Linked DNA regions of Homo sapiens: region 1 is linked to region 2. Evidence: fine-mapped expression QTL. A gene starts in region 2. The other region holds a variant in brackets. All regions are shown on one strand. Distances are from middle to middle. Region 1 overlaps AMZ1 (archaelysin family metallopeptidase 1). Region 2 holds the start of AMZ1 (archaelysin family metallopeptidase 1).

Evidence for each region.
Region 1: its variant is fine-mapped to the expression of AMZ1 in whole blood (TOPMed, PIP 0.96).

Annotation. Positions count from the first base shown.
Region 1 is chr7:2,703,214-2,718,378 of GRCh38, reverse strand. AMZ1 (archaelysin family metallopeptidase 1) reads right to left here. Exons shown (of 7, transcript NM_001384743.1): 4 at 9,663-9,791; 5 at 9,135-9,304; 6 at 8,563-8,739; 7 at 1-6,049. The coding sequence ends at 5,501. Among named protein-coding and RNA genes, the nearest start is that of AMZ1, 23 kb to the right of the region's middle. RefSeq lists enhancers at 6,896-7,055, 7,696-7,745, 7,756-7,975, 8,121-8,816, 8,736-8,835 and 1 more and silencers at 5,038-5,237, 8,416-8,575. The variant G/A (reference allele first, on the strand shown) is at 8,085.
Region 2 is chr7:2,681,098-2,696,262 of GRCh38, reverse strand. AMZ1 (archaelysin family metallopeptidase 1) reads right to left here and starts at 8,061. Exons shown (of 7, transcript NM_001384743.1): 1 at 7,967-8,061. RefSeq lists enhancers at 7,093-7,362, 14,937-15,165.

The DNA of each region.
Region 1 (15,165 bases), 22 kb before region 2:
GAAAGACGTGTTGGCCTTTGCTGAGAAGGGGCGGTTCAGTCATGCTGTATCCAGAAAACCAGGCACACTGTGGCGGGCAGAGCACCCTGCCTGAGAGAGAAAATGGACACTGGGCCCACAGTCAGGAGAGCCAGAGCTCTCGGCATCAGAGGAGCCCCAGGGTGGAGCCACGTGACTCCATGCCGGGCTCAGTTTCCATGTGACAGAAGTGCGTTCATTAAAAAGCCCAGGGAGCAGGCATCGAGGGAGGCCTCAGTGGTGGAATCTGGTAGGTGTCGTCTCTGGTTAATCTTGCGAGAGCTCGGGCCCCTCTCAGAGAGGGCAGGAGGTTGGACGGGCCTGGCTGCCGCGGACCCTCTGAGGGCCATTGTGGAGCCGCCGGGGGAGGCAGGGGCCGCCGTGTTTGCTCGACTCCGGTGACTATTTGGATTTGCCTCATCGTCACGGGAACACTGCAGCGGGGAAGAGTTGGACTGAACGCGTGGTGACCCCAGGACGCTTCTTGGAAATTGCTTTTTAAAATAAACCCCTGACATCAGCCTGTTTTCATTTGCCTCCCTACCCAAGAAGCTGAGTTCAAAAATAAACCTCCATTCTTCCGGGTTCTCATTCATCAAGGTGCTGCTGTAGGATGTCAGAAAAGGGAAGGCTCGGCCGGCCGTCTCCACCCGCGATCTGCATCTGTTTTTAACAGCGTTCGCAGGCCAGGGCTCTTTACAGTCAAGCCGGAAGTGTTTCCTAGATTACCCTGCGGTGTTTATCTTTGACAGCCTCGTGTTCCAAGAGCCATAAATTTGCTGCTGCTTTAGGTTTCCTTGAAACTGGGCACCTCTGTGTGCAGTTGCCCCACAGGGATCACAGCTAGATTTCAGCTCTGGAGCAGCCTGCGTGCGGGGTGAGCTCCAGAGAGCCCTTGGGTACAGGGCGAGCCGGTTCCCGGGGCCTCTCCCAGGACGGCAGCCAGGCCCCCGTGAGTCTCTCACTCTTACTGGAGCTGCAAAGCCAGCTTAGAGGACGGGCCGTCGTTTGCTTCCAGCACACAGGCAGGCAGACCCAGTTCAGGTCTATGAGCCCCGTCGCGAAGCCCTGATTCTCTCCGTCTTCACGGGGATAAAAATATTCCTGTGCAGGCCTCGCCCTCCTTTTATAAACAAAACAAATCAGTGAAGCCCCAGCAATCACGGGGGTGTTTTCGTTGGCACCTCACCTAAGAGTGCCGGCCACCCACCCAGGCCTCTCCTCAGAGTCCGAAGGAGCTGCACGGGCCAGAAAGCCTCCTGGTTATCAGAACCGAGGGGCGTGGGTGCCGGTGTGTGGGGGCTGCTCAGGGATCAGGGTGCAGGCCTCCCGCGTCCGTGCGCCTTCTTACTCTCTTCCTGCTCAGACCGCTCCAGCTTGCTTTTAGAAAGCTGCACAACAGCGGGAGAACTCGGGGTTCAAGCAAGAACAGACTGCGCCTCAACTTCCGCTCTGCCGTTTCTGAGGCTCCAGCCCTTCCCAGTCCCATCTCGACAGCCACAGCCATATGGTGGGGATGCAGCCATCTGCCTTACAGGTCATTTCGAGACTCGATGATGATGTAAAAAAATTCCGTTACATAGGAAGGACCCCTTAAGCGGTGGAGTTGACTGACCCACTAGGGAAGACTTGCCTGTCCAGGTGGGCCTTGGGCAGGGCAGCCGGTCCCTCTCTCCGAGGCCTGGCCGTCCCTGCCTGGTGGGTCTGCAGAGCAGCTCCCTTGGCACTGTATGGAGACCCTCTGCGTGTAGGTGTGTCCCTGGAATGTTCTAGCCTCCCCCTTTGAACTTGGTGGGATCTAAATTTGGACTCCCAGCTTTATCACTCGTGCTTGACTAAGCCATTTTATGTTTAAGGCTTTTGGAGATTTCGTTCATCGGGGAAAGGTCTGAAGCAAATATTAACAGGTCGGCATCCCTCCCTCCTCACCCATGCTCTGGAAACGGGTGGTGGCAGAGCTCCACTCACTGTCCCGTGCCCTCAGGGTTCACACCATGGACAGGAGTCAGGATGCTGCTTCTCCCCTCTCCCCACTCTGACAATGAGTTTGGGCTTTTTGGGGAGGAAGAGAGGGAAAAGAATGAGATTTCGGAAGAGGACTGCGGGGCTGCCTGAAGAGAGATTTGCCTCAGAGGGGACACTGCTTCTCACCCCTTCATCATAGCATGGCTGTGACGTGGGAGTGTGTATTCTAGCCACTTCAGAAGGCATGTGTTAGCTTCCCCAGACTCATCGCACACACAGCAATACAGATAACATCTGTCATGACCTGAAACTATTTTTAGCTCCATGAGGCCCCGCTGACTTGGCTTACCAAGATGGGTGAGGCTCTCCGAAGAGAGGTCATCGTCAAGCTGGAAGACCCATCCTTGTGAATGCAGGGGCTTCTGACAGATGAGACGAGAAAGCAATTCAGTGGACTTTGCACGTGTTTAAAAACTGAAAGAACCGTGGCCCTGTGTGTCTTGGAAACCATCATCTCTAAATTTAATCTCAGTTCAACTTCTGCAGCACTTAAGTTTAGAAAGATTCGTGAGCTGTGACCTTCCTCGAGAAGGCAGCCCTCATTCTCTCTCCTCTGCCTTGCGTCTTTCCTGGTGACTGTCCCAAGTCACTCTTCACCACAGCACAGACAGAACCTGGGGCTAACACGGGGGAGAGGAGGGAAACCAATTTCTCTTCCTCAAAGTTGCATTTCAAAACAGTCCTTCTAACAGCTGTCTTAAAAAATTTCACTGACATCTGCAAGTTGGTAAACGCTGCGGATAAAAGGAGTTTTTTTTAGTGGTTTGCTCCTTCCCACTTCAAAACGCTTTTTTGGGACACACATCACAGCTGAGGGTCAAAGGACACGGGTACAGAGAGCGCCGAGGCTTTGGTCATAACCCCAGTGGGCTCCCACCCTCAGCATGAGCCAGGCATTCTATTTTTATCACCTCTGTTTAATCTCGCATCACTCCAGCGGTTAACCTTTTGCAGAAGATGAAGGAAATCGGAAAACAGGTCAGGCCACCTCGCAGGTGCACCAGCCAAATCCCCACAGTGAACGCCGAGTGGGGCTGACTGACTGTTCATGAATGGCCACAGCAATATTGTGTTGTCTCACATTCCCTGCCACGTCCCCTCCCCGTGAACCTGGGGTGGGGTCCTTGTCACTGCCGCCGTGGAGTGCAGGAAAGGTGACGCTCTGTGACGTGAGGCCGAGTTAGGAAAGGCCACAGAGCTTCCATCTGACCCTCCCGATGTCCACCTTAGGAGGGCAACCGCCATATTGTGAGGAAGCCCAGGTCCCTTTCTGAAAGTGACCCTCTTTTTTTCGTCTCCCCTCTTTATTCTGGCACAGTTACCTCCCAGGTCACTGTCATGCCCTTTAGAAGCCATGCAAAAGAGAAGGGTATGGATGAAGGTCCTAATGCTACATCTGAGCTTCTCTGAAATCAACACATACTTGTCCCTTTGCATTTTCCGGGACTGGGACCAGGAGCCTGCTGTCTGGCTCTGGCTGCCCTGTTTGTCGGGTTTCCTCACGGTATGGCAGCTGCCTTCCTAAGAAGATGCCCCTCCTCCATGGAGAGTCTCACGTGGGCAGGAACCAAGGCCTGAGATTCCCAGCCAAATTCCACTTGGCAGCCGTGTGAACGAACACTCCAGTCGAGCCACAGGGGCAAACCGTCTCCACCGAGCTCTGCCCAAGTTACAGATTCATGAGCTAGACTGTGGTGATTTTAAGCCACTAAGTTTTGGGTGGTTGTTTGCAGCAACAGCCACCAGGCTCCGGCTTTCACCTTCTGTTACTGCAGGGTGCTCTGCCGGCACCTTCCATTGGTCACTTTCTGAAAGGCCTAGCTCTTCATCTCCCCTCCCAGGTCACTGTTACGCCTTTTTGAAGCTACGCAAAAGAGAACGGGACGAAGATCCTAATGCTACTTCTGAGCTGCATCTTTGCTTCTCTGAAGTCAACACGGAGTGGGACCAGGACCGGGAGCCTTCAGTCGGCCTCCACCAATGTCAGATTCACAAGGAAGCCTCAGCCCACCTCACCTGCATAGCCCTTCTAGTTTTAGTTTTGTATTTTGTTTTTCTTAGAAGCCCTCCATAACCGTGTGAGCCACCCACCCACAAAAGGTCCAAGCTGCCCTGTTCTTGCCTCTCTCCAGATGAGGGTGCGCGAGCTGTGACCCCGCCCTCGTCACTCCGAAGGGATTCCGCTGTCAGAACCGGAAGTCTCTCTCCCAGAGACCCTCCACCACAGGCTGAGGGGGTACGTGTGACAATAAAAGGGTCAATTCCTCAGGAAGACACAACAATCAAATGTGCAGGGACGTAAAGGAGCTTCAAAGTGCAGGAAGCAAAATCCGGCAAAACTAAAGGGAGACAGATCAAACGCCCAGCCATGGCAATAATACCCCTCTCTCAGCAACTGACAGAACTAGACCGAAAAAAAAAGGAAAGACAGATCATCTGATCACCACCTCCAGCTACTTGGTACTGACAGCGCGGCCACCTTTGCCAAGAAACTGTCCCAAAAACATCACCACAGTTGATCTTCCCCACGGTGAGCTGTAGCCGCCTCAGGAATAAGGGGGCCTCTGCCCTCAGTGCACGTCAGACACCCTCACCTCCTGCAGTGTTTGTCAGAAGAGATGCCTGGAGAGCCCCGGTGAAGTCCGTCAGGATCAGGATGCTGTTAGCGCCACAGAACGTGACAGTGTGTGTGTGCATGTGGTTGACGCCTGAGATGATAGAGACAAAACCCCGTCACTTCCCCGTTAGGGAGGAGACTCAGCCTTGGAAGCTGGGTGGCAGTGTGGAGCCTGTGTGCCCCCGGGGTCACTCCTCATCTGAGCCAGCCTCTCCAGCTCCAGCTATAAATAACTGAAGGGCAGGCCCACAGCCTGGAAGGAGACAGGACGCACGCTGCTTCCTTCTGCCTCTGCAGGGGAGGGGGCTCTGTCCCAACCTCAGCACAGTCCGGCTTGTACTCCACGAGAAGCACCCAGGATCAGGGAGGCCTCTCCATGTGTGCAGGCCCCTGGGAGCGGCTGGCTGGGACTCAGGAGTTGAAGGAGGCGCCTGAAGACAGGTGGTCTGTGGCTTCTCCAAAGAACTTTTTTTTTTCTGGAGACAGTCTTTCTGTGTGGCCCAGACTGCAGTACAGTGGTATGATCACATCCCACTGCAGCCTCGACCTCCTAGGCTCAAGCAATCCTCCCACCTCAGCCTCCTGAATAGCTGGGAACACAGGCATGAACCACTTCATCCAGCTAATTTTTTAATTTTTCTTTTGTAGAGGCAGAGTCTCACCATGTTGCCCAGTCTGGTCTCAAACTCCTGGCCTCTCAAAGTGATGGGATGACAGGCCTGAGCCACCACCCAGGCAGACCCTTCCTCTTTATCCCTGGCAGGTCAGTAGTGGCCTCAGCTACTGGACAGTGCTGGCCAGCATCCTTAGGGAAGGAGACGTAGGGCAGCCCCTGCTGTACTAACTCTCTTCCCCATCCCAGGGACGGGGGGCCGACTCTGCTCTGGCGAGTTTTCGGGCACTCAGCTTCCTCCTCAGGGAGGAGAACTTGTCCCCCAGCACCTTGCGCAGCCCCACGCTGTCCCTGCTGCTGGGTGGGTCCTGCCTGGTGGCCGGGAGCTGGCCCGTGAACATCTCCCAGCGGTCGAGGGCGTCCACGGCTCTGTCCACCTGCACCAGGTCCTCCTCTGCCACTTCCCGCTGCAGGGCCTGGATGCACATGGCCAGCCACCGTTCATGCTCCTTGATGGCCTCCGCAGGGCCCCCAGGTGGCAGCGGAGCCTCTGAGGCTGCCAGGTAGCTCAGCCCTTCCTCTGGCCCCGAGGCGAAGGTGTGACTCCCGGCATCAGGGGTGAGGGGCTCCGACACACTGGTGCCGGGCTCCGAGTCACTCTCACAGCACATGCCCGAGTCGGCGCTGGCAGGCGGGGTGTCCTCCCACACTGACGGCTCCCCCGCCTCCTGGCTGGGCCACGTCCCCACCACCGCCTGAGTCCAGGTGTAGAGTCTCTAAGAGGGAGAAACACAGGCTGAGTTTGCTCCGTGCCAGCCCTTGTCTAGCCAGGGAACTGCCAGGAGACCTCCTTACCTAAGGGGACCCCACCGTCCTCAGTTACCCAGGGGCGGGAGTCAGGCTGGTGGTGTGAGGGCTCTTGTGACCAGCACCCTTTGAGGACTCATGTCCAGGCTGTGCCAGAGTCAGAGGTACCCACCCCCAAGAGCTCACCATTCAGGAACTTCGCAAGCTCCTTGTCATCCAAAGTTAGAACACTTAACATTTTTCGATTTTTTTAAGACAGAGGCTCACTCTGTTGGCCAGGCTGGAGTGCAGTGCTGCGATCTCAGCTCACTGCAACCTCCCCCTCCCAGGTTCAAGCAATTCTCCTGCGTTGGCCTCCTGAGTAGCAGGGATTTTACAGGTTCCTGCCAGCATGCCTGGCTAATTTTTACATTTTTTAGTGGAGACGGGGTTTCACCATGTTAGCCAGGCTGGTCTCAAACTCCTGACCTCAGATGACCCACCCACCTCCGCCTCCCAAAGTGCTGGGATTACAGGTGTGAGCCACGGCACCCACCCAGAAAGCGTATAATTAAATAAAATTTAAAATTTTAAAGCAAAGGTGTGGGCATGGTGGCTCACGCTTGTAATCCCAGCACAGGGAGGCAGAGGCAGGAGGATCACTTGAAACCAGGAGTTCAAGACCAGCCTGGGCAACATAGTGAGACCACCAGGGGGAAAAAAATGTAAAGCAAAGGCAGTACTTGAAACTCACTTCCTAAATGTTTTCTCCATTTCACTCTCACCTCTGCTCTCAAGGTTAGTCTCCTCTCCTGCATCTGTACAGGGGACACACAGTTTAACAAGGTCCCACTGCACATCTGTTCCCAACTCAGCACTCACTGACATCACATTGGGAGCTCACATCAGCCATCGTGAGACTGTTTACACCACAGGAAGTGGCAGAGACCACAACAAGTCAGGCTTTCTTCAAGAGGCATTTCACTGATTGCTGTCAGTGGACAGCAGTGACCTTTTCTGGCCAGGCCCTTGGTCAGCTCTCCAGCACCTCCCCAAGCCCTGGGACAGCAGGTGACCTCACATCCACACCACTGCCCTCCCTACAACAGCCAGGAGGGCCAGGCCACCCTGGAGTGCCTTTGCCCTGGCCCTCTTCCCTCCACAGCCTCAGGAGATGGTGCTCACGGAACGGAGAGAGCTCTGGGCAGGAGGAGGAGCTACACCCTCCAGCTCAGATCCAGGTGGATCCAGGCTATGCCAGGTCAGCACGTGTAGGGAGGGGCATACACTTTCTAAAAGTTCATGTCAGATGGTTGCACAAGACCCCAGGTGAAGGCATCAAATGAGAGCTCTCAACCCTTTCTGCAGACCAAGCTGCCCCTGTGCCTGTTACACAGCCTCAGGAAGGTACTAAGAGCTGCCCCTTGACGGGGCACAGCTGGCAGCAGCAACCTTTACAAGGCATCACCAGGTGCTGACCAGCCATCACGCCACCTGTACCCTCGGGAGATGCTCCTACCCTCAGCCATGGCTGCGCCTGGGTTCCCCCCAAGTCACAGGCTCTTCTCCTTACACTTGGAAAAGCTGTTTCCTCTGTGCCCCCTTCACCTTCCCTTGACTGCCAGAGTCTTCAGAGAGGATCCCTGCAGAGAGATTCCAGCACTGTGAGCTAGAAATGCCACGGCCTCTAGTTCAGTGTCACCCAGGACCCTGCAAGATACAGCTCCTCACTCTACCCCAGAAGGAAGGAGGGCCCAGCTAGGCCCTGCAGGGGATTCTGACAGGCTCGGTCCGGGAACCACACCCCCACTTGCCTCAACGGGCGGGAGGAGGATGCAGGGGCTTTCCAGCGCGGTTTCATTGACTGCTCTGGTGCCTGTACGCAGTGAGCACCTTATAACTGGTTGTAGTCCAAAGCTGGGTTTGAAGAAAAATTACCACCACCTGCCTTTGCACTCAGAACTCAGAGTAAAGCTTTTGAGCTTGCAAACAAATGTCCATGAATACGGACGAGCCCTTTGCTCG[G/A]CAACCCCACCCAGGCGACAGAGGGAGTTAGGAATGGAGGCCACCTCCAACAAGCCTTGTTGTGTCAGCTCCCACCTCCTCGCAAGGGGCCTGTGCCTCCTCTGAGCAGCAGTGACCCAAGTGTGGGTGACGGGAAAGCAAAGAGAAAGTTACCCTGGGAAGACCGTGCCACCCGCCGGCTGGGCTCCAATGCCAGCTCTTCCTGACAGAGGGAGAAAAGCCCTCGTCCCCACTCGACCCCGCTGCAACCTCCCAGTCACAGCCACCACACGCGGGCCCTGGCAGGACTCGATCTACTGCCAGTGAGATCCGGATGGAGCTCAACCCCAGCGCAGGTCCCAGGGCTCTGCACTGCCTGGAACCCGGCAGTTGACAAAGCCTGTGTGCGGTCCCCATGCCCTGCGTAGCCTCCAGGCGGCGCTCGCGGGCCTCCGGAGCGCAGGTCCCAGCAGCCGGGCAGCGCAACTCAGCCACTCACCTGGTACCTCTCGATGAGCCTGAAACCCAGGACATGCTGCAGCTTCCTCAGGCAGATGGGACAGAGGTCCAGGGGCCGCCGCAGGGCCTCGTCCAGGCTGAGCGCACCCTGCATGAGGCAGCGGAGCCAGCGGCAGTTCCCCAGGCCCAGAAGGTGGCAGAGCTCGTGGCACGTGACCTGGGGGGAAGGCCACCAAGCACCTTGCCTCACTGCCTTGCCCCTGCATCCGGCAGATCCCCAGGCAGCCCCAGCAGGACCAAAATGAGGACCTGGGTGAGGCCAGATGGCCGGGAGGTGGTCCAGGCGCCCTCCCCCTGCCCCAGGCGGCACAGGCCACTTTCAGGGCCCCAGGGGAAAGGTGAGTCAGGGTGGGAGGCCACACAGGATAGGGGCTTGGGGCTCTAATCCCTCCCCTGCTGCTTCATAGCTGTGTAGCCTTGCTTTCCTCATTCCATAGAGTTAGGGGTCCATCCACTTCACTGTGAGGATGGGGCAGTGTAACAGACCGAGGCACCAAGGGCTCAGACAGCACCCTCCTGTCCCCTCTTACCAGCCCCAGAGCCCCCACCCACCTTGCAGCACTGAACCATCCCCAGGGCACTGAAGCACAGGGCCCAGCCCCTGTCCTGCAGGGGGGCCTCGGGGCCGTCTGCTGCTGCCTCTACCAGGGCCAGATCAGGGGCGCTGGGCCCCGACTTCGGGAATTCCCCTGAGAACCGGGCGAAGCTGCAGACGCCCACTTCTGGAGAGAGATGGAGAGAAGGGCACTCTCAGGGGTCAGCCTTGGCTCTGGGGGGCCCACCGTCAAACCCACCTCATGCTCTCATGCAAGCTGGCCATGGCCCAAAGACATACCAGTCCTGGGAGGCCCTGTCCTGCCCACATGAAGTTGGGCCCTGGGGCAGACGCCACAGCTGAGGAACAGCCCCTATGCCATTCCTCAGGAGGAGCTGGAAGGGGCCATCTATTCCCATGCACAGGTGTTGACTTCCACCAGGAGGGTGCTTGAAGCAAAAGCAAAGAGGGTGCCCTGCAGCCACGGAGGCCACAGCCCCATGCCAGGCTACCCCCCACGCACAGCTGCTGGGGCCCCGGCTCACCGTGCCCTGGAAGGAACTTGCTGAAGGTGAAGCTCCAGGCCTCATGGGGGTACAGGTCAGACAGTGTGAGGCCCAGCACACACAGCGCGTCCCCTGGCTTGTTGTTCTTCAAGAAGGACAGGATGCCGTCTGCGGGGAGAGGGCCAGAGGATGGGGTCAGGAGGCAGCCGGGGACCCCCATCTTCCAGGCTCAGGCTGGCACCCCGTCATCCTCTTCCTCTGCCTGGGCCCTGCCCCTTCCCAAGTCAGGTGTGGGCCACCAGCGTTTGGTGTGACCTGAGGGCACACAGTACTGCATGATGTGGAGTGACAGCCAGGGCCATTTGGAGATCAGGACATGGTAAGTCAAAGGCCATGGACAGCCCAGTGGGGACGCTGGAGAGGCAGCCGGGCCAACAAGACTGGCGCTTGCAGCCCCAGGAAGGAGAAGCCACCTCAGCAGCTGAGCGACAGCCCCAGAGAGTCCACGTCTCAGCCCTGGGACCTGTGAGTCCCCACAGCCAAAGGGGCTGCAGATGATTAAAGATCTTGGGATGGAGGCGTTTTTCTGCAGCAGCCAGCTGAGCCTGATGCCATCACAAGAACCCTCGGTAAGGCCGGGCACAGTGGCTCACACCTGTGATGCCAGCAACTCGGGAGGCCAAGATGGGCAGATCACCTGAGGTCAGGAGTTCGAGACCAGCCTGGCCAACATGACAAAACCCCATCTCTACTAAAAATACAAAATGAGCCGGGCCTGGTGGTGCGTGCCTGTAATCCCAACTACTCAGGAGTCTGAGACGGGAGAATTGCTTGAACCCAGGAGGTAGAGGTGGCAATGAGCTGACATCACGCCACTGCCCTCTAGCCTGGGCAACAGAGCCAGACTCCATCTCAAAAAAAAAAAAAAAAAAAAAAAGCCCTCGTTAGAGGCAGCAGGGGGTCTGGGTGAGAACGTGAGGCCTGAGGGCACTGCAGGGCTGGCTCGGAGGAAGGACCATTAGCCAAGGATACGGGTGCCTCTAGAAGCTGGAAAGGGCAGGAAATGGATTCTCCCTGGAGTTTCCTGGAGCCAACCCTTGACTTTAGCCTGGGCAGTGGGGGCGCTCCTGACCCACAGCACTGTGAGATCACAGTGGGTCATCCAAGCTAGCAAGTTGTGTAACTTGTTAGCATGGTTCCCCGGAGCATGAGTGTGGACAGATACAGGAGAGGCCCAGGGGCTGAACCTGGGCACGATGGCATCAAAGCCGGGAAACCAGAAGCCCAGGGAGGGAAGGGGGCAGAGCAGCCACCACGGGCCCAGGAAACCCGGAGAGGGTCTCAGAGTTAGTGTAGAGAAGAGGGGTTGCGGCACAGAGGCACACCGGAGAAGTGTTTTCCAAGGAGTTCTACCATTAAAAGGAACAGATTGACAAGGAGGTTGTTCTGTGTGTGTGTGTTTTTTTGTTTTTTTTTTTTGAGATGGAGTGTTGCTTTGTTGCCCAGGCTGCAGTGTAGTGGCGCTATCTATCTCAGTTCACTGTAACCTCCGCCTCCCAGGTTCAAGCCATTCTCCTGCCTCAGCTTCCTGAGTAGCAGGGATTACAGGCACGTGCCATCACACCCAGCTAATTTTTGTATTTTTAGTAGAAAGGAGATTTCACCATGTTAGTCAAGCTGGTCTCAAACTCCTACCCTCGTGATCCGTCTGCCTCGGTCTCCCAAAGTGCTGGGATTACAGGCATGACCCACCACAGCTGGCCCTGTGTTTGTTTTTGAGATAACATCCCATTCTGTCACCCAGGCTGGAGTACAATCACAGCTCACGCTGCAGTCTCCACCTCCTGGGCTCAAGCAATCTTCCTGCCTCGGCCTCCTGAGCAGCTGGGTAATTGATTGACAATGATGCTAATGAGGTGATGATGATTGACAGTGATGATTGTTGTGGATCAGGCTATGTCCCCCAAAAAGACAGGTGGAAGTCCTAACCCCCGGAACCTGCCATTGTTTGGAAACAGGATCTGTGCAGATGTAATCCAGTTAAGATGAGGTCATGAAGGAGACCCAGTGACTGGAGTCTTAGAAGAGACGCAGAGGCACATGGCGTAAAGCTCACGGGAAGTCAAAGGCTGAGGTTGGAGTTGTGCATCTGGAAGCCACAGAGGGCTGGGCATTGCCAGCAACTTCCAGAAGCTGGAGGCAGCCAGGAAGCACCCTCCACGGAGCCTTCTGAGACCACGTGGCCCTGCCAAAACCTTGGTTAAGAACTGCAGGCTCCAGCGATGTGAGACAAGAAATGTCCCTAAGCCACTCAGTTTGTGGTACTTTGTTACGGCAGTCCCAGGAAACCAGTACAGTGATCCAAAGCATGCTACTCTCTGGGCAAGATGGCAGGACCCCATCTCTACAACAATCAAAATAATTAGCCAGGTGTGATGGCACGTGTCTGCGGTCCCAGCTACTTGGGAGGCTGAGGCAGAGGAGCCCAGGAGTTCAAGGCTGCAGGGAGCTATGATCGCACCACTGCGCTTGAGCCTGGGTCACAAAGCAAGACCCCATCTCTAAAAAAAAATTAAAAACCAGGCTGAGCTGACCCCACAAATGCAACCTGGCATACCCTCTGAGTTCCACCTGCTTTTGAACCTTCCCGAGTGCATGTCCTTTTCCCGAGGGCTCCCCCGTGCACCTTCTGAAGTGTGGGGCTGGGGAAAACAGCAGTTTGTCCACTAAGCAGAGGGGGTGGAAAGCCCTGGAGTGACCCTTGTGGGACTTGGTGCTGTCTCTGAGCTGCCACAGGCCTGGCACCAACAGGTCAGAGGCCATAACAGGTGAGACGCACCGTGTACGGCGTGGGGGAGGTGAGGAGAGCTGAGGCTGCAGAGGCCAAGCCTGAGAGGCACGGGGTCCCCGGCTGTGTTTTAGGGCCAGGGCCAAGGCAGGCCACATTGTCCCCAGACCCCACTGTAGGACCTCAGGGGCTGGGGAAGCCTGTGGAGTGTAGGCTGTACCCAGAAAGCAGGCCAGGACAAAGAAACATGCCACCCAGGGGATGGCACCCCACCCCAGCCAGGGGACCCCTATCAACCCCCAAATCTCAACAGTGGCTGCTCCCTGTAACAGTACCCTAGGGAATTTAGACAACCCTCCCGCCAAAAGATGGCCAGACAGGCAGAGTGAATGATAAAGAACAGCTGCTTCCAACACCCACGATGGGGAGGAGTGGATTAAGGAGAAAGGTTTGGTGGCCGGTAGAGGGGTAGAGAGCCGCCCTCTATATGATTATGGTGATGGCCACGTGATGTATGCGTGTGTCAAGACTCAGAACCTTACACTAAAAAGGATGAATTTTACTATCTAAATTATACCTCAATAACCAAGGCAGAGACCTAATGAGAAAAACGGGGAGGACTGGAGCTCAAACAGATGAAGCTGGACTGTTTCTGGGGTGGGGGAGTGGGCAGGATGACCCTGACATGCTTCCTGCCCTGGGAGGGATGCGGAGCCCTGGGGACCATCAGAATGACCCAGAAAAGCTTCATGTCTTTGTCCCACAGTCAGCCCTTTGGTGCCTGGCAGAAGGAAAAGAAAATCCTCTATGGTGAAAAACATCGGCCCAGGCCAAAAATTCTCAAAGTTAAACTAATTTTTCCAATAAGATGCGTAACTAACAATCAAAAATAACAAGGCACAATGAAGCAGGATAACTGAGACAAAATTAGCAGAAATAACAAATACAGGCACATGGGCACTCCAGATAGTGTAATCATCGGACAGACGGTCAAGCAACTATGTTCATGGACATCAATGCTGAACTTAAAGAAGTGTCATAGGCAACTGAGACCTATAAAAATGTGACACTGGGCCGGGCGCAGTGGCTCACACCTGTAATCCCAGCACTTTGGGAGACCGAGGCAGGCAGATCACCAGGTCAGGAGATCGAGATCATCCTGGCTAACACGGTGAAACCCCGTCTCTACTAAATATGCAAAAAAATAGCCAGGCACAGTACTGGGCGCCTGTAGGCCCAGCTACTCGGGAGGCTGACGCAGGAGAATGGCATGAACCCAGGAGGCGGAGCTTGCAGTGAGCCAAGATCATGCCACTGCACTCCAGCCTGGGTGACACAGCAAGACTCCGTCTTAAAAAAAAAAAAAAAAAAAAAAAAAAGCGTGACACTGCTAATTTCAAAAAGAATCCACTGGAAACTGTAGAACTCACAAACATGACAACTGAAATTAGGAACACAATATATGGGGGTTGTGATTTTTTTTTAATGATCGGGTCTTGTTCTGTCACCCAGGATAGAGGGGAATACAGTAGCACGATCACAGCTCACTGCAGTTTCAAACTCTCAGCCTCCCAAGTAGCTGAGACTATAGATGTGTGCCACCACTGCCAGCTATTTTTATATTTTTTGCACAGACAGGGTCTGGCCTAGTTGCCCAGGCTGGTCTTGAACACCTGCTGTCAAGCTATCCTCCCACCTCAGCCTCTCAAAGTACTGGGATTACATGTGTGAGCCACCATGTCCAGCCTCAATATATGGGTTTAAGAGTACCTTAGATGAGGCCAGGCACAGTGGCTCACGCCTATAATCCCAGCACTTTGGGAGGCCAATGCAGGCAGATCATGCGGTCAGGAGATCCAGACCATCCTGGCTAACACGGTGAAATCCCGTCTCTACTAAAAATACAAAAAAATTAGCTGGGCATGGTGGCAGCCGCCTGTAGTCCCAGCTACGCGGGAGGCTGAGGCAGGAGAATGGTGTGAACCCGGGAGGCAGAGCTTGCCATGAGCCGAGATTGCACCACTGCACTCCAGCCTGGGCGACAGAGCAAGATTCTGTCTCAGAAAAAAAAAGTACCTTGGATGTGACTCCAGAGAGAGTAAGCCTTAGCCAAAGGATGAGAATAAATTCAGACTAAAGCATGAATGATCATAAAAGATATTATAGAGAAGAGAGTAAGATGGATTAATATACATTCAGTTGGAGTCATAGGAGAGAAGAGAATGGGGCAGAGGTGATAACTGACAAAAGCAGCAATGGCTGAGAGTATCCCAGAACTGATGAAAGCTGTCCATCCGCTCATTCCAGCCCCTTTGAGGCCCTCCCTAAACTTGAGTCTAGGTTTCCTATCCACCAACAGAGCCCTCACTTCACCTCTGCCTCTCAACCCTGCCTCACACTCTCCAGTCACCAGCGACCCTCAGGGAAGGGGCAAGGGCTTGAGGGTTGAGATCTAGGCACGTGTAAAGTACTATGCAAAGACGGAAGGTTGGAGCCATGCTGAGTGGCCTTAGAAGGGCTCATTTCAAGCCAGTGACGGTGACTCACGCCTGTCATCCCAGCACTTTGGGAGGCTGAGGCAGGCAGATCACTTGAGGTCAGGAGTTCAAGACCAGCCTGGCCAACACAGTGAGACCCTGTCTCAACTAAAAATACAAAAATTAGCCGGGTGTGGTGGGCGCTTTTAGTCCCAGCTACTCAGAAGGCTGAGGCAGGAGAATCGCTTGCCTCAACCGGGAGGTTGCAGTGAGCCGA
Region 2 (15,165 bases):
AAAAATGACTATCAAGAGCCACAAACCGCACTGTGTTCCAGGCAGGGCTTCATTGCTTTAACCCTCAGAAAAGTGGGTGCAGTTTTTGTCCCCATTTTCAAAACCGAGGTGGAGTAGGGTTAAATCTAACTTAAGCAACACCATGCCACCCAGAATCAGAGGTTGTGGGGGGCGGGGCGAGGGGGGTTGGAACACACAGATTTTGTTTTCTAATAATAGTTATGTCCATTTCCTTTTTTTTTTTTTTTTCCCCCCCAAGACAGTTTCGCTCTGTCACCCAGGCTGGAGTCCAATGGCACTATCTCAGCTCACTGCAACCTCCGCCTCCGGGTTCAAGCGATTCTCCTGCCTCAGCCTCCCGAGTAGCTGGGACTACAGGTGCCCGCCACCACGCCCGGCTAATTTTGTATTTTTAGTAGAGACGGGGTTTCACCATGTTAGTCAGGCTGGTCTCGAACTCCTGACCTCATGTGATCTACCTGCCTTGGCCTCCCAAAGTGCTGGGATTATAGGCATGAGCCACTGCGCCCGGCCTTTTTTTCTTTTTTAAATGAGACAGGATCTCCCTGTTTTGCCCAGGCTGGAGTGCTGTGGTGCACTCAGCTCACTGCAGCCTCCAACTCCTGGGCTCAAGCAGTCCTCCTGCCTTGGCCTCCTGAGTAGCTGAGACTACGGACATGTACCAACACGCCCAGTCAATTTTTTTTTTTGTAGAGAAGAGTCTCACTATGTTGCCCAGGCTGGTCTTGAACTCCGAGGCTCAAGCAATCCTCCCTTATGGGCCTCCCAAAGTGCTGAGATTATAAGCCTGAGCCACCACATGGGCCTGAACATGCAGATTTTCAAGCATCATGGTTCCCATCACCATGGGAAGCAGGGCCCCACCTTGCTGGGACCACGTGGGTTCTATGCAGACCGAGCCTGTGCCCAGACCCGCATGCCCACCACCAGACTCCAGCGTGGGTCTCACTCCTGGACTCCTGGAGTGCACAGGGCAGTCCTGGCAGGTTCACACCAGGGTGGAATTCCCGCCTCTGGACCATAAAGGAAGAAAGAAACATCAGATGCACAGACGATGGACAGGACCAGATCCTGTGGCCATGGAAAGGGCCGTAGTGGGCAAGTCTTGCAGCGGGGCCAGAGGCTGAGCAAGGAGGAGCCGTGAGGACAGACCCAAGTCAGCCAGAAGCAGCTGAGATGCACGATCAGTGGTTCCAAAAGAGGCCAGGCGGGTCCCAGGGCAGGTGAACGCACGGGTTCATTCATTTATCCAATATATATAAAATAATAGGCCGGACGCGATGGCTCACGCCTGGAATCCCAGCACCTTGGGAGGTCGAGGCAGGCGGATCACTCGAGGTCAGGAGTTCGAGACCAGCCTGGCCAACATGGTGAAACCCTGTCTCTACTAAAAGTACAAAAATTAGCCAGGCGTGGTGGCACATGCCTGTAATCCCAGCTACTCGGGAGGCTGAGGCAGGAGAATCGCTTGAATCCAGGAGACAGAGGTTGCAGTGAGCTGAGATCGCGCCACTGCACTCCAGCCTGAGTGACAGAGCGAGACTCCATCTCAAAAAAAAAATAAATAAAATATATATTATATATATGAGATTTTAATATATACGATAATATATTAATGTAATATAATCTCACATGTATATTTATAGGATTATGACCAGGTACGGTGGCTCACACCTGTAATCCCAGTACTTCGGGAGGCAGAAGGATCACTTGAGCAGGGGCGGCCAAGGCCAGCCTGGGCAACATAGACCTCATCTCTACTCTATGAAAATAAAATAAGGATTTATTATGAGAATTGGCTCACAGGCCTCAGAAGCTGAGAAGTCCTACAGTGTGCTGCCTACAAGCCAGAGACCCAGGGAAGCCCAAGGCGTGATTCAAACTCAGCTCATGTCCGAAGGCCTGAGAACCAGGGCAGCCGATGGTGGACATCCAGTCCCGGGGCAAGAGAGGATGACATGTCCCAGCTCCAGCGGCGAGGCAGGAAATGAGGGGTGAACTCCTCCTCCCTCTGCCGTCTGTTCTATTCAGGGTCTGGAGGGATTGGAAGGTGCCCAGCCACTTGGGGAGGGCAGTCCACCTTCCTGAACCCACTGTCCTAATCCTAATGTCATCTCGAGCACCCTCACAGACACGCCCAGGAACGGTGTTGCATCAGGCACCCTGTGGCCCAGTTCAGCGGACTCATGACAGTGACATTAGCTGCCAAGGGCTTCCTGGGTGCTGGGCCCTGTGCTGGGGGTTTTCCAACATGAGTGGACAAAACAGAGGTCCCTGGCCCCATGGAGTTAGGTGCTCCAGCAGGAAGGCAGGTGGCAAAAGTGCTAAGTAAATAGCATAGAAGGTAGGTTAGAAGGTGACAGGTCCTGTTGGAAAAAGAAAAGGCTGGCTGGCTGCAGTGGCCCATGCCTGCATTCTCAGCACTTTGGGAGGCCGAGGCGAGCGGATCAGGAGGTCAGGAGATCAAGACAATCCTGGCTAACACGGTGAAACCCTGTCTCTACTAAAAATACAAAAAATTAGCCAGGCGTGGTGGCGGGCGCCTATAGTCCTAGCTACTCTGGAGGCTGAGGCTGGAGAATGGAGTGAACCCGGGAGGCGGAGCTTGCAGTGAGCGGAGATCGCGCCACTGCACTCCAGTCTGGGCCACAGAGCAAGACTCCGTGTCAAAAAACAAAACAAAACAAAACAAAAATTAGCTGGGTGTGGTGGCACACATCTGTGGTCCTAGTTACTCGAGAGGCTGAGGTCGGAGGAAGTCTCCAGCCCAGGAGTCCAAGGCTGCAGTGAGCTGTGATCGCACCACTGCACTCCAGCCTGGATGACAGCAAGACCCTGTGTCCAACAACAACAATCCCACCAACCAGGCACGGTGGCTCACACCTGTAATCCCAGCACCTTGGGAGGCGGGCAATCACCTGAGGTCAGGAGTTCAAGACCAGCCTGACCAACATGGAGAAACCCCATCTCTCCTAAAAATACAATATTAGCTGGGCGTGGTGGCGCATGCCTGTAATCCCAGCTACTCAGAAGAATTGCTTAAACTCGGGAGGCGGAGGTTGCGGTGAGCCGAAATCGCGCCACTGCACTCCGGCCTGGGCAACAACAGCAAAAACTCCATCTCAAAACAAACAAACAAACAAACACCCCCCTACAGAGCGGGGCAGGGCTCAGGCGTGCCAGGCCCACACTCCCATTCCTGAGAGGGTGATCACAGTGGGCTCCATTGAGGTGGGATCTCTGAGCAAGGAGGCAGCGGGGAGGAGGGGCAGACCGTCCCAGACAGAGGTGGGTGTACACAGGCCCGCAGCAGATACGTCTGGGGGCTCAGGGGACAGCCGGAGGAGGCCAGTGTGGCTGGAACAAATTGGGGGAAAGAACAGGGGACGAGATTGGGGGAAGATGGGGACACATCGCGCAGGAGCCGGGAGGCTGTTGGAAGAGCTTTAACCTTTGCTCTGGGTGAGGTGGGGAACCGCTGCTGGGCTTGTGGCCAAGGGGTGGGGTACTCCTGCCCTAGCCATGCCAGGTGTCAGCGTGTGGAGGCAGCACCCCCTGCAACCTCTCAGAGTCCCCTCGGGGACTCCTGGGGACCTCGCTACGGAAGAGGCGCCCAGGAAACCCCTGAAGCTGGAATGCCCTCAACAACTCCGAGGGCTCTGGCATGAGCTTGGTCCTCTTTATTTATTTTTTATTTTTTGAGATGGAGCCTCACTCTATCACCCAGGCTGGAGTGCAGTGGCACAATCTCGGCTCACTGCAACCTCCGCTTCCCGGGTTAAAGCGATTCTCCTGCCTCAGCCTCCCGAATAGCTGGGACTAAAGGCGCCCGCCACCACACCCGGCTAATTTTTTTTTGTATTTTTAGTAGAGATGGGGTTTCACGTGTTAGCCAGGATGGTCTCGATCTCCTGACCTCATGATCCGCCCGCCTCGGCCTCCCAGAGTGTTGGGATTACAGGCGTGAGCCACCACGCCCGGCCAAGCTCGGTCCTCTTTCAACCCCACTGTGTCCTCCCTGTGAGATGGGTGTGGTCCCACCTGTCTTCCTCCAGGAGCCTGGCTGGCCCAAGTAGGAGGAGGAGGCACTTAGCCGGCCTCGGAGCACCCGACGCCACAGGAGACTCACCAGCTTATTTTTGTAGTTTCTGGGTACCGGTGACATGACCTGCTCACCGGCTTCTCGCTCCCAGACCTTCCACTCACCAGCACTGCCGCCCACAAGGGGCAAGCACCATAACCTCCCAGTTACCTCCAAATCATTCCCCTAGCGCCGCAGCCAGCTCAGAATTATTTGTTCTGTCCACAGGGGCCTATCAATTATTTCTCTGGAGCAGCCCAGGGCCTTCCAGATGCCCAGGATGGTCTGTGTCCCAGCTTTCCAGAGAATGACATGGTAAAACAGATAGCAATACCTGCGGGCACCCTGGACCAGCCCTGATCAACATTCCCCTTCCGGTGCCTGCCACCCTGCAAAGCCCCAAAATCACTTATTTTTTTTTTTTTTTTTTGAGACGGAGCCTTGCTCTGTCACCCAGGTTAGAGTGCAGTGGCGCAATCTCGGCTCACTGCAACCTCCGCCTCCTGGGTTCACTGCCTGAGCCTCCCGAACAGCTGGGACTGCAGGCGCTCACGACCACACCCAGCTTATTTTTGTATTTTTAGTAGAAACGAGGTTTCACCATATTGGCCAAGCTGTTCTCAGACTCCTGACCTTGTGATCCACCCGCCTCGGCCTCCCGAAGTGCTGGGATTATATGTGTGAGCCACCGCGCCCGGCCCAAAATCACTTTCTGATGCAACACCTTGTCCGACCTCCAAAGCCATCCTGAGATTCACCCATGTCATAACCCAGGAGACTGAGGCTCAGAGAGGGAAAGCCACTTGCCCAGGGTTACACAGCTCACCTGGATCTTGACTCCCAGCACAGAGACCCCTGACTCCAGTCCTCACACACGGACCTTCCCCTACTCTTGAGGGGGCTTTCCTGCCAGCACCCACACCCACCTGACCACCCGAAAACCCTGGTCAGAGGCTTCCCTGCCAGCAAACCCTCCTACTCCAGGCAAAGCATCAGGAAATGAGAAATGCTTTTTTTTTTTTTTTTTTTGCCTCTGTCACCCAGGCTGGAGTGCAGTGGCACAATCTCAGCTCACTGCAACCTCCTTCTCCTCCAGGGTTCAAGCGATTCTCATGCCTCAGCCTCCCTAGTAGCTGGGACTACAGACGCATGCCACCATGCCAGGCTAATTTTGTTATCTTTAGTAGAGACAGGGTTTCACCATGTTGGCCAGGCTAGTATCGAACTCCTGGCCTCAAGTGGTCTGCCTGCCTCGGCCTCCCAAAGCACTGGGATTTCAGAGGTGAGCCACCACACCCGGCTGAGAAATGCCTTCTTTTTACCAAAAGTTCACAAGCCCTACCACATTGGTTCCAGGTGTGACTTGGGCCCAAACTGCCAACCTCAGGCCCATCTAAGTTATTCAGGGAGGACCGAATGGGAGCAACAGGAAGGGCCACAGCGACAAGTTTTGCAGGGGACCAGAGCACACGCACAGAGGAGCCACGACCACAGAGGCCGTTTGCACACCCGCAAGCAGTGGCGGGCACGTGGGTAACTCAAGAGCATCTACATCGGAAACCCAGCCAGAGACACAACACCACCTTCAGCCAACCTGAGCCGCCCGGGAAGGAGTGGCCACGCCAGCTCCAGACTAGCCCGGCTGGAAGATCAACAGGATGTGAGAGGCAAGCTCTAAAAATAGCCACCTCCCGGGACAATCGCTTGAGTCCAGGAGTTTGAGACCAGCCTGGGGAAATATGGCAAAACCCCGTCTCTACAAAACATTTTAAAAATTAGCTGGGCATGGTTGTGCATGCCTGTGGTCCCAGCTACTAGGGAGGCTGAGATGGGAGGATTGCTTTCGCCCTGGAGGTCGAGGCTGTGGTGAGCTATGATTGCATCACTGCATTCCAGCCTGGAAGACAGAGCAAGACCCTGTCTGTCTGTCTGTCTGTCTCTCTCTCTCTCTCACACACACACAAAAACACAGCCACCTCCTAGTGCAGACTGGAGAATGGTGTGACAGGCTCCAAGCTAGGAATGAGAACGCTTAGCTCCCTCCATCCCTTAACACGGGTACAGCTCTCGGGCATCCAGGGCATGACGTCTGCCCACATACTATTTCCTCTCAAGAAGCCTTGTGGCCACATTCGTCTTCGTGGGTCATTCAGGAAAACCCCGGTCCCCACTGTCAGCTGCCAGCTGAGTCCTTCCATCCTGCCAGGTCATTTCTGCACAAGACCACTCCTCACATAGAGCCAGAGCTGCATGTGAGCCCTGGGGGTACCCACGGGGAGGGAGCCGCCTTAGTGGGGGTCAGCTTCGCAGCACCCTCTGGCACTCACCAACCCATCCATGCTCCAAAAAGGAGACCCCCAGATGGAGGTTTCTCGCTGTCCTTTGGACCCTGTCACAGTGTGTCCCCCTCCTCTGCTAACTGCAGTCATGACAGCAGCCAACAGGTCTCATGCCTGCGTCCTCCAAGCCACACACGGAGCCGCAGGTGCCACTGCGGTGTTTCAGGTGGGGAAACTGAGGCTCAGACGTTAAGTGACTTGGCCCTGGCGACACAGCTGGGGGCCAGCGGGGCCTGGTTTCAAAGCCACGCTTCACACTGGAACCCCAGCTGCTCCTGGAGCAGGGATGTTCTGACGGGGACAGGGGGTAGGACGTCTCCTCTCCCAGAGCACCCGAGTTCCAGCCCTGCTGCTATTAATACCATGGGTAAACTCAGACGCTTCTCCTTCCTCCTCCCCTTGCCTTTTTTTGTCCAAAGACTGGAAAAGAGCACGTCCGCATCCCCCCCCCAGGGAGGTTCTGCCGCTCTAAGCAACAAGGGCCGCCAGACTGGCCCAGTAACCAGGTATCCAAGGTCAGGCTGCCCTAAACCGCACAGCTCCGGGCACTCATGCTCCCCCATCTGACCACGCAGATGCCTGGCCTTTGGGCAAGAAACCATGCTCTGATTCTCGCTATTCTGAATGCGCTTTGCAAAACCTCCCAGCAGCTGCATCGAGCTATTCATTAGCTGACAGCGGAGACCTTCAGGCAGAACCAGACGGACGGATGGTTTTGGGGGTTTCTCACCTCTCAGTTTCCATTCGCTAGGAGGGAAAACCGGGGGCTTAGACCGCAGGGGTAGTGGCCTCCGGGCCAGACTCTTGGCTTCCTGTTCTCTCTCCTCACCTGCGAACCCCAAACTCCTCTGCCAAGTGTTTCCCTCCCGTGATGGGGGCAGAAAGGACCCAGGTCCCTGCCCTCCCCTGTCCTTTGTAAAGTTTGCCATTTCTCTGTCACCCCTCCCTTGCTTTTCTGGTTTTGAGACCTGTCTTACATCCCTGCAGGGATCATATCCACAGCCTTCTCCCTCAGTCTCCTGGGGGAGGAAGCCTTCTCCCTCCCCGGCTCATACACAGGCTGCGGGGAGCCCTGGGCACGACGAGATTCTCGGCGCCCTGGAGGTTCCCCGGGGACGTCCCGCACCCACCTGGCTCGCCCCAGCCCGGAAACGCCTTCTTTCGGGCGCTTGGCCCTGGATTCCCGACCCGTCCCCAGTTTGCTCCCATCGGGAAGCGCGCAGGTCGCCCTGGCCTGGGAGAGGATGGCGGGGAGGGGGCGCGTGGCCCTTCCCTGGCCCGGCCTTCCCTCTGCAGGACCTGCCGGGGCTGTGCGGACCCCGGCGCGGCGCTGCACCAAACCCTCGCCAAGTGCGCCCTTCGCGTCTCCGCGGTCCCCGCGCGCCCGTAGCCGCCGCCGCCCGGGCGCCCTCGGGACTTGGTGCGCGGGCCGGGCTGGACCCGGAGCTGCCCCTACCCACCCGCCCCGGCACGGAGGTCCCTCTCGGTCCCTGCGCCCCCGAGTCTTCCCCGCGCGCCCCCCTACCTCGCAGTCCCGCGCCCGCCGGAGCCGGCAGAGGCCGCGCCGGGCACCGAGCCCCGGGCAGCAGCGTGGGCAGCTCGGCCTGGGCCGGGAGGATCGGGAGGTCCCGGTGACGTCGGCGCGCGGGGCAGGGACCGAGGCGGGCGGGACTGGGGCCGGTGTGGGGCCGCGGGCAGGACAGGAGGGCCACACCCCTCCCGGCGCTCAGCGTCCTGCCCCACTCCCTCCAGCTGCCCGCGGTGGAGCTCACGTGGGACCCTCCAGCCTCCCAGAAACACCCGGGCAGGGGGGCCCCAGAGCCTAAAGCCAAACAGGTGAGGGAGGTCAGTCAGCCCGGGCCAGTTCGTGCCTCCCCAGGTGAGAGGAGTAAACCCGGCTACTCTGCAAGGCGCCAGGTGAAGAGGTGAACCAGGCCACCAGTTAAGGCCCCAGGTGAGAGGGGTGAACCAGCGCCACGAGGTGAGGAAGGGGAACCAGGCCACCAGGAGAGGCCCCAGGTGAGAGGGGTGAACCAGGCTATCAGGCAAGGCGCCAGGTGAGGGGGTGAACGAGGCCACCAGGTGAGGAGGTGAACCAGGCTTATCAGCGAAGCCCCAGGTGAGAGGGGTGAACCAGGCCCCTAGGTTAGCCCTACAGTCAGTGGCCCTGAGGACGGGCGCCCTGCCCTACCCTGGCCAGCTGTGAGTGCAGCCCTGGCCCTGTGCCAGCCACCAGGAGATGGAAAGGACTCTAAGTGCGGAAGGATGCCGTGAAGGCCGGCATGACGGCTCCAGACAGAGCCCAGAGGCCTTTTCCATAAACTGCCCTTTTCCTCTCTGCAAACCCTCCCAGCACCAGCTTCCCTCGGGCAGCCTCCCACCAGCTCTGCTTCACCGTGCAGAAATGCCCCCCACGCCCTCAGCAGCGCCCCACAGATGGCTGAGGGATTCGTCACCATCGTCCCACACCAGTGCAAAGAATTTTTTTTTTTTTTTAGATGGAGTCTCGCTCTGTCGCCCAGGCTGGAGTGTAATGGTGCAATCTGGGCTCACTGCAACCTCCACCTCCGGGGTTCAAGTCATTCTTCTGCCTCAGCCGCCTGAGTAGTGGGGATTATAGGTACCCATCATTGTGTCCAGCTAATTTTTGTATTTTTAATAGAGATGGGGTTTCACCTTCTTGGCCAGGCTGGTATCAAACTCTTGACCTCATGATACACCCGCCTCAGCCTCTCAAAGTGCTGGGAGTACAGGCGTGAGCCACCACACCCAGCCTCAAAGAATTTTTTTAAGCCTTAAGAAATAACACGGCTGGGCGTGGTGGCTCATGCCTGTAATCCCAGCACTTTGGGAGGCTGAGGCAGACAGATCACAAGGTCAGGAGTTCAAGACCGGCCTGGCCAGTATGGTCAAACCCCGTCTCTATTAAAAATAAAAAAATTAGCTGGGCGTGGTGGCTGGTGCCTATAGTCCCAGCTACTCGGGAGGCTGAAGCAGGAGAATCACTTGAACCCGGGAGGCGGAGGTTGCAGTGAGCCGAGATTATGCCACTGCACTCCAGCCTGGGTGACAAAGCAAGACTTTGTTTCAAAAAAAAAAGAGAGAGAGAGAAAAACAACACAACACTAGGTGTCCGGTGTGCAAAATTTGGAAAATTATGAAAAATAAAAACAAAAAGAAGACCCCATAAGCCAACTGTGTAGAGGTAACCTCTCTCACCTTCTTGTCAGACATCCTTCTGATCGCCTTCTCCTCCACATTGAAATGTATTTTTAAAAAGTTTTTTTTGAGACAGGATCTTGCTCTATTGCCCAAGCTAGAATGCACTGGTATAAACGCGAGTCACTGTAGCCTCGACCTCCTAGACTCCAGCAATCCTCCTCCCTCAGCCTCCTGAGTAGCTGAGACTACAGGTACGTGCCATCACACCTGGCTAATTTTGAAACTTTTATGTAGAGATGGGATCTCGCTATGTTGCTCAAGCTGGTCTCAAACTCCTGGGCTCAAACAACCCTCCCAGCTCGGCCTCCCAAAATGTTGAGATCACAGGTATGAGCCACCGTGCCCAGCCTAAATACATATTTTAAGGGATTCACGTCACATACTGCGTTCTGCAGGCGGCCCGTGACTTCACACTCATCAATAGCCAAAAGTCCGTCTCCACACCCTGATGGTCTGCGCTGGACTCCGTGTCATGGATCTGTCACCTGCTTTGGGATATTTTGGTTTCTCCTGGTGTCTCACTAGCATATATCACTGTGATAGACGATCTTGTTTCCACAGATCTTTGTACAGGTATCTGGTCCCCCTCACCTTGGGATAAATTCCTACAAATAGATTGTGACTCAGAAAGCTGCACTTCTTCACACGTGTTGCCGCAGGGATTTTCCAGGTTATTTCTGTTGGGGATGGAGAACCCAGAACCTGAGAAAAGATGAATGTTCTTTTTTTTTTTTTTTTTTTTTTCTTGAGACGGAGTCTCGCTCTGTCACTCAGGCTGGAGTGCAGTGGCGTGATCTCGGCTCACTGCAAGCTCCACCTCCCGGGTTCACACCATTCTCCTGCCTCAGCCTCCTAAGTAGCTGGGACTACAGGCGCCTGCCATCATGCCTAGCTAATTTTTGTGTTTTTAGTAGAGATGGGGTTTCACCATGTTGGCCAGGATGGTCTCGATCTCCTGACCTCGTGATCCGCCTGCCACGGCCTCCCAAAGTGCTGGGATTACAGGCATGAGCCACCGCACCCGGCCTTTTTTTTTTTTTGAGACGGAGTCTCACTCTGTTGCCCAGAGCTGGAGTACAAGTGGCGCGATCTCGGCTCACTGCAAACTCCACTTCCTGGGTTCAAGCGATTCTCCTGCCTCAGCCACCCAAGTAGCTGCGATTACAGGTGCCCGTCACCTCGCCCGGCTAATTTTTGTATTTTTAGGAAGGACAGGGCTTCACCCTGTTGGCCAGGCTGGTCTCGAACTCCTGACTTCAAGTGATCCACCCGCCTTGGCCTCCCAAATTGCTGGGATTACAGGCGTGAGCCACCGAGCCTGGCCTGAATGTTCTGTCCTAAAGCTGCTTATTACAAAGAAGTTGTGGAATATCCTCCCCCCAACCCCCACGCCCCTCCCTGAATAGCCACCGGAAAGGAAATTATGCATCGAGGCCGGGCGCGGCGGCTCAACCTGTAATCCCAGCACTTTGGGAGGCCGAGGCGGGCGGATCACGAGGTCAGAAGATCAAGACCATCCTGGCTAACACAGTGAAACTCCATCTTTACTAAAGATACAAAAAATTAGCCGGGCGTGGTGGCGGGCGCCTGTAGTCCCAGCTACTCAGGAGGCTGAGGCAGGAGAATGGCGTGAACCTGGGAGGCGGAGCTTGCAGTGAGCTGAGATCGCGCCACTGCACTCCAGCCTGGGCGACAGAGACTCCGTCTCAAAAAAAAAAAAAAAAAAAGCAATTATGTGTCAAGCCCAGAGTGGCAGTTCCTCCTCTGTCTGTTGGGTCAGCCCGGGAGACTGGAAGCCCAGATGAGTAGGGCCCCTCCTGGGTGCCCCAAGTTGGGTGGCGCCATGCCCAGTGCCAGGACCCCCGAAACACAGAGGCAGCCTGCTGATGACCTGGCCCCTGCCAGCCAAGGCTTCACTCAGCCAACGCCCTGTCCACACTGCACCCGGGACACGCTGGTCTCCCACCGGCAGACTGCACACCCCTTTCTGGTTGAAGCTACCTCGTCAGAGTCTATTCTAGAAAGAGGCCGTGATATGGGGACCCCTGTCCTTTCAGTGATGAACAAAGGGGGCCGCCCCCAACTTTGACCCCATCACCATCCTCTGACCCAGGCCGACTTGGGGTTAAAAGAGAACTGTGTGGCCTGGGGAAGCTGCTTCACCTTGCCCTGCCTCAGTTTCCCCAGGGTGGGTTACATAGCGGCTCCCAAAAATGTGCCTACTTGCACCATCAGAATGGGACCTTATTTGGAAACCGAGTCGTTGCAGATATGGTTAAAGTAAGGATCTCAAGATGAGGTCATCCTGGGTCAGAGTCAGGGTGGGCCCTAAATCCAATGCAAGTGACTTTGTAAGAGACAGAAAGAGGTTCCTCATTGGAGGAACAAGACAATGTAAAAAATAATGACAATTTTTTTTTTTGAGATGGAGTCTCGCTCTGTCACCCGGGCTGGAGTGCAGTGGCGTGATCTTGGCTCACTGCAACCTCTGCCTCCCAGGTTCAAGCGATTCTCCTGCTTCAGCCTCCTGAGTAGCTGGGATTATAGGCGCGTGCCACCAAGCCCAGCTAATTTTTGTATTTTTAGTAGAGATGGGGTTTCACTGTGTTGGCCAGGCTGGTCTTAAACTCCTGACCTCAAGTGATCCACCCGCCTCGGCCTCCCAAAGTGCTGGGATTATAGGCATGAGCCACTACACCCAGCCAACAATTTTTTAAAAAGAGAGAGAAAGAGGCTGGGTGAGGTGGCTCACGCCTGTAATCTCCAACACTTTGGGAAGCCGAGGTGGGAGGATCACTTGAGCCCAGGAGTTGGAGACCAGCCTGGGCAGCATCTCTACAAAATATTGTAAAAAACAGACAGAGCTGGGCGCGGTGGCTCGCGTCTCTAATCCCAGCACTTTGGGAGGCCAAGGCAGGCGGATCACGAGGTCAGGAGATCGAGACCATCCTGGCTAACACGGTGAAACCCCGTCTCTATTAAAAATATAAAAAAATTAGCCAGGCGTGGTGGCAGGCACCTGTAGTCCCAGCTACTCGGGAGTCTGAGGCAGGAGAATGGTGTGAACCTGGGAGGCGGAGCTTGCAGTGAGCCGAGATCGTGCCACTGCACTCCAGCCTGGGTGACAGAGCCAGACTCTGTCTCAAAAAAAACAAAAACAAAAACAAACAAACAAACAAAAAAACAGAAAGTTGAAGACACAGAGACACAGAGGAGAAGACGGAGATGGGAGTGGTGCAGCCACAAGCCAAGGACACCTGGAGCCCCCAGAAGCAGGAAGAGGCAGGAAGGACCTTCCCCTGGAGCCCTCTGCAGAAGTTCGGCCCTGCCCCAGCCTTGACTTCAGACCACTGCCCTCCAGAATTGACAGTGAATGTGTGCTGTTTGAAGCCGCACAGCTGTGGTCATTTGTCACGGCAGCCGCAGGAAACTCATCCACATTGGAAAACAGGAAAATGCTTCACACGGGTTTTATAAGGAAGAGGAAAACTCTCCCGGGGCATTGGCACAAGGAGTCCTGGGAAGCAGCAGCTGCTCACCCAGCAAACTCGAGCCACAGAACAGGGGCTTGGCCTCTCTGCAGCTCAGCCCTGCTCCAAGGCCAGCAGGCGAGGGTGCAGGCAGACAGTGCTGTGGGGACAGAGGAGGACGGCTCTGAGGCTGGCTTCACCGCACAGCAAGATGAGCCCGGGTCAACGGCAGAGATGGGGGTGTGCCAGGTGGAAGGAACCGTGCGAGCACAGGCCTCCCTGTACAGAATGCCTGCAGGGATCTGGGCAAAGATGGGTGCAGGAAGTGGGGCAGGGTCAGAAAAGCTGGAGAAGAGATGAGGCCGCATCTGGGGAGGGGGGTTGCTGAGGGCCAGGGGCTGGGGGGTGAAGGGGCTCGGAACACAAGCAGGGGAGCCGTGTATGGCCCAAGCAGGGGTTTCCATGGCCCGACACTGAGGTCTCCTGGGTGCAGTAGGTGACGTCCAGGAAGGAGGCAAAGGGGTCTGAATCCTGGTCCAGGCAGGATGCACGGGGCCTGACCCCAGCACTGCCTGCGGGACTTGGGGTGTCCTAGCACAGAGTACAGTCAAGCCCTCTTCCCTGCCATGGGCTCCGTGCCCGTGCCTCCGTTTCCCCAGGCCTCCCTGGAGCTGTCGCTGGAGCACTGTAGGAATGCAAAGCAAAGCTAAGGACCCTCGCATCGGCCTGAGGCCTCCTGGGCAGCCATTCTTCAAGGGACTGTGTGCTGGGGGCCCACCCGGTGTCATCTCATGCTGGACACGAGACCCTGACTCCTGGAGCTGCAGTTCCCACCCCCCACCCTGTCCTGGGGTAGCTGGGGACCCTCTCAGGCCTGAGGGGAGGACAGGAGCTCCCCAGCACGAAGAGCGGGGGGAGGCCAAGCAGGGCGAGCTCCCAGACAGGCTCAGCTGGCCCTGGCCCCGGCCCAGCCTCCCTGTGCCCAGCCTGTGAGGCCGCCCTTTGAGCTTCTGGATTAGTATTCACGTCGGGTCCCCAGCTCTGAAAGCCCTTGTTCCCTCCAGAGAGCAGCCAGAGCGGCTGGAGCTGGGGGCGCGCTCAGTGCAAAGTGACAGCCCCAGCACATAAACTGGGGCCCTTAGCCCGCTCCCCCAGGACCCCTCCTCCGCTGTTTGGGCTCCCATGGGCTCAGCAAGGCTGGGGGACTGGGAGGGAGGGGCCGCCTGTCCATCTCTCTGTCTGTCTGTCTGTCTCTCTGAGTTTCTATCTCTGTCTGTCTGTCTCTGTCTCTTGGGGTTCTTGGTCTCTCTCTCTGTCACCATCTCCCTCCTCCCTCCATCCCTGTCTCCTACCCTCTCATGCTGTGTGTAGTCAGGGGCCCCAGGAGTAACCCCACATGTAGTTTCTCCAGCAGGAAAAGACACACGGACCAGGCACGTGGGGACGAATCTCCAATGACATCTCCCTGCACCACCTGTCCCTGTCGGGGTCTGTCTTGACTCTGAGCTGTCTGCAGACTTCCCCACAGCCCCCACAGTTGGACCCCAACAACAAGAATAACAAAGGCTTGGCTGGGCACCGTGGCTCATGCCTGTAATCCCAGCACTTTGAGAGGGCAAGGCGGATGGATCTCTCGAGCCCTGGAGTTTGAGAGCAGCCTGGGCAGGATAGCAAGACACCCCCATCTCTACAAAAATTAAAAAAAAATTAGCCGGGCGTGGTGGCATGCACCTGGGAGGCTGAGATGGGAGGATCACCTGAGGGCGTGGTGGCATGCACCTAGGAGGCTGAGGTGGGAGGATCACCAGAGGCCGGGGAGGTCAAGGCTGCAGTGAGCCATGATTGCACCACTGCACTCCAGCCTGGGCAAGAGTGAGACCCCGTCTCAAAAAATAATAATGAATAACAAAAGCTGTGTTGATGATGCCCATGGCCAGGCGCACGCTAGCCAGGCTGACTTGGGGCTTTCGGGCCTGAGTGGCACCGAGCTCAGCCATGGCCCCGCTCCAGCCCTGCATCCTCAACTCTGAAA